Linked DNA regions of Homo sapiens. The protein of the gene in region 1 interacts with the protein of each later gene in a pairwise test. Each region holds a gene or a part of one and is shown in the gene's direction. Other genes may lie near its edges.

Evidence for each region. Proteins that work in one complex are often made in the same cells at the same time.
Region 2: the proteins of VPS33A (region 1) and STX17 interact in binary tests that used the Homo sapiens proteins (3 or more experiments, as listed by UniProt).

Annotation. Positions count from the first base shown.
Region 1 is NC_000012.12:122,256,485-122,263,509, reverse strand, and holds part of VPS33A (vacuolar protein sorting-associated protein 33A), read left to right. Parts: intron 1-2,062; coding exon 2,063-2,249; intron 2,250-7,025.
Region 2 is NC_000009.12:99,965,654-99,972,678, forward strand, and holds part of STX17 (syntaxin-17), read left to right. Parts: intron 1-1,999; coding exon 2,000-2,086; intron 2,087-2,780; coding exon 2,781-3,020; 3' UTR 3,021-7,025. UniProt on the Homo sapiens protein: SNAREs, soluble N-ethylmaleimide-sensitive factor-attachment protein receptors, are essential proteins for fusion of cellular membranes.

The DNA of each region.
Region 1 (7,025 bases):
GCTCCTTCTCATGGAAGACCCTCACTCTTGCCAGTGCAAGGTGGTCTTTTGGAAAACTGAGATAGGCATGGAAGAATATAAAAGAGAAGATGGGGGCTGGGGGGAGGTGGAGATAGTTAATGGGTACAACAAAAAATAGAATAAGACCTACTATTTGATAGCACAACAGGGTGACTATAGTTAATAATAATTACGTATTTTTAAACTTAAAAAGTGAGACTGGGCATGGTGGCTCACACTTGTAATCCCAGCATTTTGGGAGGCCAAGGCGGGTGGATCACTTGAGGTCAGGGGTTCGAGACCAGCCTGGCCAACATAGTGAAACCCCGTCTCTACTAAAAATACAAAAATTAGCCAGGTTTGGTGGCCTGTGCCTGTAGTCCCAGCTACTCGGGAGACTGAGGCATGATAGTCTGTTGAACCCGGGAGGCAGAGGTTGCAGTGAGCTGAGATCGCGCCACTGCACTCCAGCCTGGGCAACAGAGGGAGACTCCGTCTCAAAAAAAAAAAAAAAAAAAGAGTGTAATTGGATTGTTTTGTAACTCAAAGAGTAAGTGCTTGAGAGGATGTGTCCCCCCATTCTCCGTGATGTGCTTATTTCACATTGCATGCCCACATCAAAACATCTCATGGACCCCATAAATACATGCGCCTGCTATGTACCCCCCAAAAATTAAAAATAGAGAGGATGAGAAACTTAGGAAGTTGTTGTCAGCAGTTGGAGAGGAGGATCATCCTATCTACCCATTCTTTCAAGATAGCCAAAAGCTACCCATTCTTTAAAGATAGCCAAAAGCTTAAACCTGTGTCAGTAAAAAGGGCCCTAGTTTAAAAAAATAAACCTCCAGCAGTTATTTTTAAATATACTGCATGTACTTGAATTTCATAAGCAAAAAAAAAAAAAAAGCTGATTAAATTTTAATATAGCATCCAGTCTATAGAGGAAGTGCTCCCAGCCGAGTCTGCACTCTGTGGTACAATTGATTGTTGCAGCCCCTAAAATCTTAAAAGCATATGGGCTATTTTTGGAAGTTCTCTGTCAAGGAGAGTAGGAGTGGGAGTCAAAAGTGATCTTTCATTTTAATTTAAGACTCTTTGTGGCTGCATTGCTTTGGTTGAAGAACCATTTGTTTTTATTGAGACACAGATATCCTATTTCAATCAACCTGAGAGCTTCAATGCCCCATAAATGGTTTAAGAGAATGCTAAAATGTACTCGCCAGGACTCAGTGATGCTTTCCTGTCAGGGGGAAGAAAGAGAGAGAGAGTGGGTACAGCTGTAACACGTTGGGTCTGAGTCAGTTTTTGGTTATTTTTTTGAGACACAGTCTCACTCTGTTGCCCAGGCTGGAGTGCAGTGGTGGAATCTCTGCTCACTGCAACCTCTGCCTCCAGGGTTCAAGCAATTCCCCTGCTTTAGCCTCCCAAGTAGCTGAGATTACAGGCACACACCACCATGCCCAGCTGATTTTTGTATATTTTTGTTTTAGTTTTTATTTATTTATTTTGAGATGGAGTCTCGCTGTGTTGCCCAGGCTGGAATGCAGTGGCGTGGTCTCGGCTCACTGCAACCTCTGCCTCCCGGTTTCAAGCGATTCTCCTGCCTCAGCCTCCCAAGTAGCTGGGATTACAGGTGCCTGCCACCATGCCCGGCTAATTTTTTGTATTTTTAGTAGAGTCGTGGTTTCTTCGTGTTGGCCAGGTTGGTCTCCACCTCCTGTTCTCGTGATCCGCTCGCCTCGGCCTCCCAAAGTGCTGGGATTACAGGCATGAGCCACTGCGCCCAGCCATTTTTGTATATTTTATAGAGACGGGGTTTTGCCACCTTGACCAGACTGGTCTCGAACTCCTGACCTCAACTGATCCGCCCGCCTTGGCCTCCCAAAGTGCTGAGATTACAGGTGTGAGCCACTGCACCCGGCCTGAGAGTCAGTATTTATATGATTTATCTAGCCAGCATTTATTTAGTGCCTGCTATGTGCCAGGCAGTGGGGATAAAAAAAGCAAAATGGTCCATGACTCTTAGGAGCTCATAAGCTAACAAATGTTGCTTCCTTTGCAGTGAAGATAGACGAGGCCCAACGAGAGATTTTCATATTCTGTTTGTGCCACGCCGTAGCCTGTTGTGCGAACAGCGGTTGAAGGATCTGGGTGTCTTGGGATCCTTTATTCACAGGGAGGAGTACAGCTTAGATCTCATTCCATTCGATGGGGATCTCTTATCCATGGAATCAGAGGGTGCATTCAAAGTAAGTTTGGCATTTCCTTAACTTCAGGCATTAATTTTTGCCCAGTTTATGAGTGTGAGCATACCACAGTACTGATTACTGTGAAGCTGAGTCCCATTTTATATGTTTATTGATGTTTAAGATTTTCTGTTCAACAAATTGTTCATTTTCTTTGCCCGTTTTTTCTTTTTGAGTAATTCTTTGTATATTCTGGATGTTGATCATTATGGATTATAAAAGCTGCAAGTATCTTCCCAGTCTGTGACTTGTCTTTTAACTTTGTTTTTTTGTTTTGTTTTGTTTTTTTGAGACGGAGTCTCGCTCTGTCGCCCGGGCTGGAGCGCAGTGGCGCGATCTCAGCTCACTGCAGCCTCCGCCTCTTGGGTTCAAGGGATTCTTCTGCCTCAGCCTCCTGAGTAGCTGGGATTACAAGTGTGCGCCACTATGCTTAGCTGATTTTTGTATTTTTAGTAGAGACAAGGTTTCACCATGTTGCTTGGCCAGGATCCGCTTCATGATCCGCCCGCCTCCGCCTCCCAAACTGCTGGGATTACAGGCGTGAGCCACCGCGCCTGGCTTAACTTTGTGTATAATGTCTTTTATCATGTAGACACTTCCCATTAAAAGTAGTTAAATTTTAAAATTTTAAAATATTAGCTTTATTTATTATAACTCACAATACTGGCTGAGGTAAGTGGCTCATGCCTGTAATCCTAGCACTTTAGGAGGCTGAGGCGGGTGGATCACCTGAGATCAGGAGTTTGAGACCAGCCTGGGAAACATGGGGAAACCCCGTCTCTACTAGAAATACAAAATTAACCGGGTGTGGTGGTGGGTCCCTGTGGTCCCAGCTATTCAGGAGGCTGAGGCAGGAGAATCACTTGAACCCGGGAGGTGGAGGTTGCAGTAAGCCGAGATTGCGCCACTGCACTCCAGCTTGGGCGACAGAGGGAGACTCTATCTCAAAAAAACAAAAAACAAAAAACAAAAAAAAAAACTCACAATGCCATGAAATTCTCTCCTTTAAGGTGCAAAATTCAGTGGTTTTTAGTGTATTTACAAAGTTGTGCAACTATCTCCACTCTCTAAGTATGGCACATTTTAACTATTCCGAAAAGAATCCCCATGCCCAGTAGCAGTCTGTCGCTATCTTTCCTTCCCTCAGCCTCTGGCAGCCACTAATCTAGTTCAGTCTGTATGAATTCGCTTATTCTGGAGTTTTCCTTTTCTTCTTTTTTTGAGATAGAGTCTCACTCTTTTGCCCAGGTTGGAGTGCAGTGACGTGATAATACCTCACTGCAGCCTTGACCTCCTAGGCTTGAACGAATTTTCAGCCTCAGCCTTTTGAGTAGCTGGAACTACAGGCATGTGCCGCCACACCTGGCTAATTTTTTTTTAATTTCTTTTTTTTTCTATTTTTATTTTTTGGAGAGACAGCGTCTTATTATGTTGTCCAGGCTGGTTTTGAACTTATTCTGGAGATTTTTTAGAAATGAAATTCTATAATACATAAATGGTCCTTTGTGTCTGGCATCTTCACTTAGTGTAATGTTTTGAGGGTTCACCCAGGTTGAAGCCTGCGCGAGGCCTTCATTCCTTCTTATTGCTGAATAGTATTCCATTGTAATGATATTATCATTCATCAGCTGATGGACACCTGATGGGTTGTTTCCACTTTTTGGCTGTCACGATACTGTGAATATTGTGAAAAGTTTTTATGTGGATGTATGGTTTCATTTCTCTTAGATATACCTAGGAGTAGAGACTGGGCGTGGTGGCTCACGCCTGTGATCCTAGCACTTTGGGAGGCTGAGGTGGATGGATCACTTGAGGTTGGGAGTTCAAGACCAGCCTGACCAACATGGAGAAATCCCGTCTCTACTAAAAATACAAAATTAGCCAGGCATGATGGCGCATGCCTGTAATCCCAGCTACTTGGGAGGCTGAGGCGGGAGAATTGCTTGAACCTGGGAGGTGGAGGTTACAGTGAGCTGAGATCACGCCATTGCACTCCAGCCTGGGCAACAAGAGTGAAACTCTGTCTCAAAAATACATACATACATACATACATACATACATACATACATACATACACACATACATACACACACACACACCCCTAGGAGTAGAATTGCTGAGTTGTGGTAACTCTGCATTTAACATTTGGAGGAGCTGCCAAACTCTTTTGCACTGAAGCTGTACCGTTTGTACTCCCAGCAGCAGTGTGGGAGGGTTCCAGTTGTATATCCACATGGACAGACTTATTATTCTGTCTTTTTTTTTTTTTTTTTTTTTGAGATGGATTGTCACTTTGTCACCCAGCCTGGAGTACAGTGGTGCGATCTCGATCTTGGCACACTGCAACCTCGGCCTCCCAGGCTCAAGCAATTCTCCCGCCTCAGCTTCCTGAGTAGATGGGATTACAAGCATGCACCACCACGCCTGGCTAGTTTTTGTATTTTTAGTGGAGATGGGGTTTCGCCATGTTGGTCAGGCTGGTCTTGAACTCCTGACCTCAGGTGATCCACCTATCTCAGCCTCCCAAAGTGCTGCGATTACAGGCGTGAGCCACCATGCCTGGCCTGTTATTCTTTGAATTTAGTCATCCTACTGAGTATGAAGTGGTGTCTCATTGTAGTTTTTATTTGCATTTCCATAATGACTAAGGATGTTGATCATCTTTTCTTGTGCCTGTTGGCCTTTGTCTTCAGCTAAACAAATGTCTGTTCAGATCACTTGCCCATTTTTAAAATTGGGTTCTGTCATTTTTATTACAGAATTGTAAGAATTCTTAATAGATTCTAAATGCAAGTCTCTCCTCAGATACATGATTTCCAAGTATTTTCTTTTGTTCTGTGAGTTCTTTTCACTTTCTTGGTGAGATTGGTGTCGTTCGATGCACTAAAGTTTTAAATTTTGGTGAAGTCTCTTTTATCCAGTTTTTCTCTTGTTACTTGTGCTTTCAGTATCATCTCTGAGAAGCCATTGCCTACCCCAGGATCACAAAGATTCACTCTGATGTTTCCTTCTAAGAGTTCTATAATTTTTTATTTTTTAAAGAGACAGGTCTCACTATGTTGCCCAGGCTGGTCTCACACTCCTGAGCTCAGGCAATCCTCCCGCCTCAGCCTCCCAAAGTGCTGGGATTACAGGTGTGACCCACCGCGCCCAGCTTATAATTTTTCTACATCTTATGTTTAGGTCTTCAACCCATTTTAAGTTAATTCTGTATGTAATGCAAGGTGGGTGTCCAAATTTCATTTTTTACACATGGATATCTATTTGTTCCAGCACTATTTGTTGAAAAGACTGTATTTTCCTCATTGAATTGTTTTGGTACCCTTGTCAAAAATCAATTGTCCACAAATGTAAGGGTCTGTTTTTGGTCTTTTAGTTCTGTTTCACTGATCTATATGTCTGTATGTCCGTCCTTATGCCAGTACTACACTGTCTTGATTACAGTAGCTTTGCCATAAGCTTTGAAATCAGAAGTGTGAGTCCTTCACCCTAAAGCAGGTAAATATATCACTTTTGTTCTTTTAGATTGTGCTTTTTGAGTCTTCATAAATCTTCCACTCTGCAGACAAAGAAGAAAATCTTTTTTTTTTTGAGATGGAGTCTCACACTGTCACCCAGGCTGGAGTGCACTGGTGTAATCTCAGCTCACTGCAACCTTCACCTCCCAGGTTCAAGCAGTTCTCCTGCCTCAGCCTCCCAAGTAACTAGGATTACAGGCACACACCACCACGCCCAGCTAATTTTTTTGTGTATTAGTAGAGACGGGGTTTCACCGTGTTGTCCAGCCTCCTGAGCTTCCACCTGCGCCCGGCCCTTTTTTTTTTTTTTTTTTTTTTTGAGGCAGAGTCTCACTCTGTTGCCCAGGCTGGAGTGCAGTGGCACAGTCTCGACTCACTGCAACCTCCGCCTTCTGGGTTCAAGCAGTTCTCTTGCCTCAGCCTCTCAAGTAGCTGGGATTACAGGCATCCACCACCACGCCCGCCTAATTTTTGTATTTTTAGTAGAGACGGGATTTTACCATGTTGCCCAGACTGATCTCGATGTCCTGACCTCAGATGATCCACCTGCCTCGGCCTCTGAAAGTGCTGGAATTACAGGCGTGAGCCACTGTGCCTGGCCTGAAGCTACTTTTTACCCCAGTTCTCAGACTGCCCCTTATCCCAGAAGCAATCACTATTTCTCTTTTAATTTGGGGTGGGGGGATATTATATGCAGCTACAGCTCATAGTATATAATCCCTCCCCACTTTTGTACAAGTAGTAGCATATGATATATATACTTTGGTATGTTGCGTTATTCTCTTAATAATATCTCTGAGTCATTTTCTACCACGTATGGCAATACTTGTTTATTCTCATTTGAAGCTGCATAGAGTTCCATTGTTTGGATGTACATAATGTATTAAATCAGCTTTCTGTTGGAGAGCATTTTTTTCCTCTCTACGCTGTTGGAGGCAGTGCTGCCGAGAATGAGCCTGTTTGTAGGCCCCTCTGCACATGCGCCCTTTGTAGGCTGCGTTCGCCTTTGTCATTTCTTTTGACATTGCTTCTGGTAATTTTGGCTGTGTGTATGTTTTTAACATAATCACACTTACCCATGTTTCTTTGATTTATGAGTTTATGATGCTGCTGCTGCTGGTGCCGCTGCTGCTGCTCTGGAGACTAGAACTTTTTTTTTTTTAATTGTTTTTGAGACAGATTCTCACTCAGTCACCCAGGCTGGGATGCAGTGGCACAATCTCGTCTCACCGCAACTTCCACCTCCCCAGTTCAAGCAATT
Region 2 (7,025 bases), on another chromosome or scaffold:
GAAAGCTGACTTAAATAAGTTTTGCTATTGAGGAAAATAAAAATTGAATGATTGAATGAATGCTAAAAGATACCTGAAGTTTTAGTGTCCTAGAATTTTCAAGCACCGAAAGAAAAAGTTAAATATATTTTTTGATAGAGAGATGAGAGTTAACACTTCCTTGGGGAAATTAGGATAAATTTTTCTATTTTTCCCCCCTCACACTTTGCAAACACATTTTATCCCCACTTCAACTCTATGAAGGTATAAGTATCACTATTCTTACTTGATAAATGAGAATACCAACACCTAGAGAGCTTGAGTAATTTGTCTAAGAGCACATAGTGGCGTTTGCTGAGATTTGAACACAGATTATCTGACTAAAGGTGGTGCCCTTGATCTGAGCACATATAATAGTGGTTCTTAAAGTGTGAGAATTGTGGACTGGCAGCATCAGCATCACCTGGGAGCTTACTAGCTCAGGCTTCATCCCAGGCCTACTGGATCAGAAACTCCGGGGATTAGGCCCAGCAATCTGTGTTTTAAGAAGCCTCCAGGTGGAAGACTGAGAACCATTGTTAAAGTTGTCTCTCACAGAGACATTCAAAGGAAAACTGATAAGGGACTTTCTTAGGCATTGTTTTAGAGATGTCAAGATAGTGGTGGAGAATATTGGAATGAAGGGATACCACAATGGCGAAGATAGACATATTTTGTGTATGAGAAGGGAAGTAATATCAGTAATGCTAAGAGGAAACAAACATGGGGAAAAAGTAGCTGTGTGGTTTGGGCTTCATGTTTTCAAATGAAATAATGGTTGGAATTAGAAAAGTGTTGTATGTGTCTGCCTCAATATAAATGAATAGGCCAATTATATAAGGGCAATCAAACACTTCAGGATTAAAGTTGAATTATTTCACCCTCATTGCAGGTGGCATCTATCTAGGATCAAAGAGAGATTCTCTTTTTTCTGCACATTAAAAAAACAAAACCAAAATAGTCTGTAAACTGTGATGGTTGATTATATGTTGGCTTATACATTTGTTGTTTATACATTTGTGATAGTTGGTTTATACATTTGCTAAATTTCATCATACTATACCATTAAAAGCAGTACTTGTTATATGTAAATTCTATCTAAATAAAGTTGAATTAAAAATGGGAATGTGTTCCTACAGCAAGTAATGAGTTCGTGTCACTGGAGGTATCTGAGCAGAGGTTCAGTAACCACTTGTCAGGAATGTTACAGTAGGGCTTCGCACATCAGAGAGGAGATTGACCTGATGACCTCAACATTCCTTCTACCCAGAGATTCCATGAGTCACAGTTGCTGTTGTGCCAGCACAGGTGTTGCCATTTTATGTAGAATGCTTTATTAATATATTTGATCTGAAACATTTTAAACTGTCATGATTTTAAAATGTATTAAGATACACAGGTGTAAAGCACAGAACAGTGATTTCATTCACTGTTCCCTACTGCATATTACAAATGGAAAGATCTCATAATAGATCAAACCGTATTGTAGTCTTGTTCCTGAAACATAACAATTTGTATTTATTGGACCAAGGGCATTTTACTCCTAAGGTAAATGTGCCTGATTTAAACTGAATCCTCAAAGAAGGTAAGTTAGGGAGGTATTTTGGGGTTTGATTTTGTTGGGTTTTTTTTTTCCATCAAACCCAACATGACATGTAAATGCTTATTTGGATTTTTTTTTTCTGGAAAGTAGATTCATTTGGAGAATAATATGTTTGTATGTTTGAGTGAATTTTAGCGTGAGATGCTTTTTGCTGTAAAGTTGCCACCCTTTTATTACCTAATAATTAAGACCCCCCCCTTTTTTTTATGAAAGTTAATTTGTCCTTTCGACATGGCTTATCAGATGCTATTAATGAACCACTATTAAGATGGCAAGGCTGCAGTACCCAGGGCCCTGATTACAGGAATTAAAATAGTGTGTGTTGGCTCCCTGCTGCTCCCCAGCAGGACCGCTCACTCATAATTCCTTTGCATCTAGTCTCAGCAGGAGAAGATTGACAGCATTGCAGACCATGTCAACAGTGCTGCTGTGAATGTTGAAGAGGGAACCAAAAACTTAGGGAAGGTAAGATTCTGCTCCTGCTGACAAATCAATGGTACTCTGGCTCCCAGGAATCTCTAGTATTAACCCAATTGATCTGCTCTCTTCAATGTTGAGGGAACCAGCAATTAAGGAAATAAGGAAGAAATGACACATAGGTAGTGTAAGAAATCAATGTTGTAATATTCTACTCTAAGATTCATTCTATCAGGAGAGGAATTTCTTCAAAGAGAGAATAAACTGTAGCTCTGCTGTAAGGCATTTGGTGTTACCAGGGAATATTTGCAGAGGGTAAAAGTGTAAGTATGTGACAGCACACATGGAGTGGGACCATCTATTTTCCATAGGATGTTGCTTTTAACCCCAGGCACACAGCACTGAATAATTTCTGTGCAACATAAAAGCTTTGGGGGAAATCTGTGGCTGCCGAAACAGTTTAAATAAGCCAGCTAGATAGTTAGTGAATTGATTGTTTTGCAAGTAAAATCAATTTGTAGCAGTCCACTCTTTGTAGCTCAGCTCTCTAAGTTCTGAGATCTGGAGCAATTGCAGTACCTGTGGAATACTTTCTTTTCCCCCCTACAAGTACAGTCTCTAAGGTTAATTATGTACCAAGAGTTAAAGAGGCATTGCCAGGAGTAATGAGAGGAAAACGCACATCACCACAGGCAGATATTCTCAACTCAGTTTCTAAATTGAATTTTTTTTTTTTTTACAGGCTGCAAAATACAAGCTGGCAGCTCTGCCTGTGGCAGGTGCACTCATCGGGGGAATGGTAGGGGGTCCTATTGGCCTCCTTGCAGGCTTCAAAGTGGCAGGAATTGCAGCTGCACTTGGTGGTGGGGTGTTGGGCTTCACAGGTGGAAAATTGATACAAAGAAAGAAACAGAAAATGATGGAGAAGCTCACTTCCAGCTGTCCAGATCTTCCCAGCCAAACTGACAAGAAATGCAGTTAAAAACCAAATTTCAGTATTATTGGTGCCAACATGTCTATCCTGAGGACCTTTGCTGCTGTTGGACACTCCGTCACCTTTTGGAACACAAGTATATCAAGATAGTGGCTACTGATGTTCAAGTGGGATTGAAGTGTGATAAATGGATATATTTTGTTGTTTGCTGGGGTGTTCATGGAGATGTTAAGAGATTGAGGCCCTGGGCTGAGGGTATATAATGTATGTCAGGTAAAGTTTGAAGACTGCCAAGGAGCAGATTTTCTCCCTGGAAATGTGAAAACTGAACCTATAACTCTGATAAGGACTTGAGATGTGTAGAAACGTTGGGTTATGGAAGACTAGTTTCTTCCATAACCCTGAATTGGAGACCTTAATGCTAAGTGTAGATTATTGAGGTTTGTTAGTGAGGAAAAGAATAAGAGTTCAGAAGCCTTTGTTATCAGATAGCGAAATCAGGGCCTAGTGAGGAGCACAGGTCGACTACATAATGGAGTCCATTGGCGAACCCTATTGCAATTTGGTCCAACTATATCTTCTGGTGAAGGAAATTAATGATGTAAGAAAATGCAAGAGGCTCAACTTCTCTTCCAAAAATCTTCTGGCTTCTGAACTCTTCCTCTGCCTCTCTTTAAATAAATAACACAGAATTTCAAGTGGTAGGAGACTTATTAAGCCAGTCACCAAGCTTGGTCTGTCAGCCTGTCTTCTAACACCTCAAAGATCTTGTGCCCTGTGCTGTCCCTCCCTTGTAATTATGAAAAGTTCTTTGGTTTCTGGGGTGAATTCTACCCATGTATAATGAGGAATTCTCTCATAACCTTTTTTGTCTTGTCTGTCATCTCTGTTCATCCCTTCCTATAACCTCTAGGTAAAAAGAAAAGAAAAAAAGAAATTTCGAGATATTTTCAACATTGTTAGAGTTTGGGCTAAAATGAGCAAGGAGAAAAAAACCACCAAGAACATTTCCTGGGGCATGTTCCAGTTTTGAGGGGTGATATATCTGCCAGATAGGGGGTATCTGACCCAGTCTTCTTTTCAGCTGGTCTCTGGGGGGAGCTGAGAACTCGCTTGCTACCTCACATCCTTTTCCCCAGACTTTTTATCTCCTATGCATCCCTTTGCTTTCTATAGCTGGTGTTTCTTCCCCAAAATGGCGTTCCCATGCTTACCTTTCTCACATTCTAGACAATGATGGACAAAGACGCATGCAAGACTCAGACCCGGGGAATGGTGTGGTGCTAATCTCAACACCTGACATTCACAGCAAGCATGGCCCAGCCCAACTGCATGTCTATCTCAAACCGCAGAAAGGCTTTAATACTGGAAAAAAAGAATTCAAGACTACAGGCAGCTCCCCTCTGTACCCCAACTCATTTAAAATAGGAGGAATCACTTTTTGCCTTACTTAACGCTTTTTTCTGAGCACAGGGATGGGCACCTGCACCCCAGAAGGTGTGAGCTGTCTCTCTGCCAGGAGCTAAGGTTCATTAGGGGATTGGATGGTTTATCACTTCTTTCTTTCTGAGTTTACTTTTAGTAACTTTTATTGATGGCTACCTTTCATGTCCCTGTCTAAAGAGACTTTCTCTTTCATACGTCTTAAATCTCATCAATGAAATCCAGTGAAACAGCACCATTTCTTAGTATCATTAAATAACTAGAAAGTATCAAGTATTGCTCTCTGCTGCTTTATATCATTAACATATTAATAATACCAAGAAGGAAATACTTTGAATAAGTGTCAGATTCTGATCCAGTATTGGACACCTGTGATATTGGACACCTGTGAGGCTGGGATAATTACTTTTGAATTACACCTCTTCTCTAGTTTCTGGACCTTGCTCTGTCACTTTAACACAGGGTGATCAAACCTGAATGAGGATCAGAACTCACCCAGGCACATACTAAAGCAAGATTCCTAAACCTCAGTTCCAGGGGTAATTCTGACATCACCCGTCCAGCATAGTCAGCTGAAATTATAAATCTAAGAAACAGTTACATCAAGATTCTGCTGTGTCATTTAATTCTGAAACTCCCAGTATTCTACCCTTCTTCATCACTGCATATTACCCCACTCTTCCATCCCAAATTGGCTATCCTTTCAGCCCACCAACTTAGCGGCAGCACTAGGGATTCATTATAAGGTAAATCTGGTTTACATAAAGACCTGAAGGAGGCCTGTATTTGAAGCTCACACTTGGTATTGGTATCTCTCATTTTTACTGAGCCAGTGTGGAATACCACTGTATGTACTCATATAAGCCCTTGACTTTTACTGCTCATCAGGATTGGAATATTACTCTAGCAGTCTTCACACATAGGCAAGTTACAGTCCTTTTAAAAAGTATCTCATTTCCCTATAATGGAACCTAATAGCCAACTTTTTCATAGAAATTGCTAGAAGAGTTTGATCAACTATAAATGATAAAGTGTTTATAAGCATAGTCAGTGTGACACAGAAACCAATCTTAAAATTGAATTTAATGTTTTATCATATCAGATTAAATATTTTCTCCATGTCTTATTTTTACTGCAACAAGTTAGAAAGTGGGAACACTTTGATTAATGTCTTAAAATTTGTGGGCCCTCATTTGGATAAAGGCAGCAATCCTAAGGACTTTTTTTTTTTTTTTAACATAATCTGAGAATTTCTCTGTAGAGCAGAGACTTTCAAACCTTTTGGCTGTAACCCACAGTAAAAAACGCATTTATATCAAACCTTAGAATATGTTTAATGAACAATACTTACCATTCTGATGCTTTTTATTGTTTCAGTTTTTAAAATATGCCAGTTGCAACCCACTAAATTGATATCTACCAATGGGTTGCAACCCTTAGCTTGAAAAAAACACCCTCACAGAGGAACTGGTATTTCTTGAATACCTTCTGTTTGCCAGGCACTTCACCAGGCATTTTACAAGTAAGGAAACTGGGCTTCAGAGAAAATAATTTGCAGAGGTTTACTCAACTACAAAGGGGTGAAGCCAGGAATGTTAACTAGGTCTGTTGAGCTACAAAAACTTTTATGTCTCTCAGACTATACAGCCTCTATACAAAATTGAGATGGGGGTTGGGGGCAGGGGCTCATGCCTGCAATCCCAGCACTTAGGGAGGCAGAGGCCAGAGGATCACTTGAGCCCAGGAGTTTGAGACCAGCCTGGGCAACATAGTGAGACTCTTGTCTGTATGAAAAAAATTAAGAATTAGCTGGGTGTGGCATAGCACACACCTGTGGTCCCAGCTACATGGGAAGCTGAAGTGGGAGGATCACTTGAACTCAGGAGCAGCCTTGGTGACAGAACAAGACCCTCTCTCAAAAAAATATTTAAAAAAAGGTGGGTCATCCATTCTCCTTTACCAAACAGGCTTTGAAATGACACATTCCATTCATTTGCATCTTTTTAAAAAACTTCTGATTCCTTACTGAGTGTCCAGCAGCCTCAAAGTTTTTAATGGTAGCTGATGCAGACATAAACAGTGCTCAATTTGGCCCTTAAACTATAAAATCAAGAAAGAGTATTTCAATCCCATCCACCTGCCTGCAAGATTTCTTAATGTTCACTAGTTATAACCATTGTTTAAACAGTGCTTTTTGTGTAATTTAAAAATAAACTTTAATGCTTTTTAAAACAAATTTATCATAATTCATAGATCAAATGATTATCCTTTAAAATGATACCCTTGGGAAATCATGTACTTACTGTAGTGATGCTAGTATTAATATTACTTAGACCAATTTTGAAACTGTTCTTTCAGAATTGCCTCCAAAGACATTTTGCAGATCATCCCAGAAAAGGGGGTATGATGGTGCTGTGTAGAACTGACCAGAGTTCCTGGAGGATTTTGAGGTTATACTGAAACTGAGTGCTGTACAGGGAGAATTGCATGAGTCCAGAAACTTCCTTCTGTGGGCTGCCTGCCTTCCTGCCCTCCCTTAAGTGCTCTAAGATTTTTGTACAGGAGTAAGAATCAAATACTGGTAACATCAATCACAAGAAGTTGAGGAAA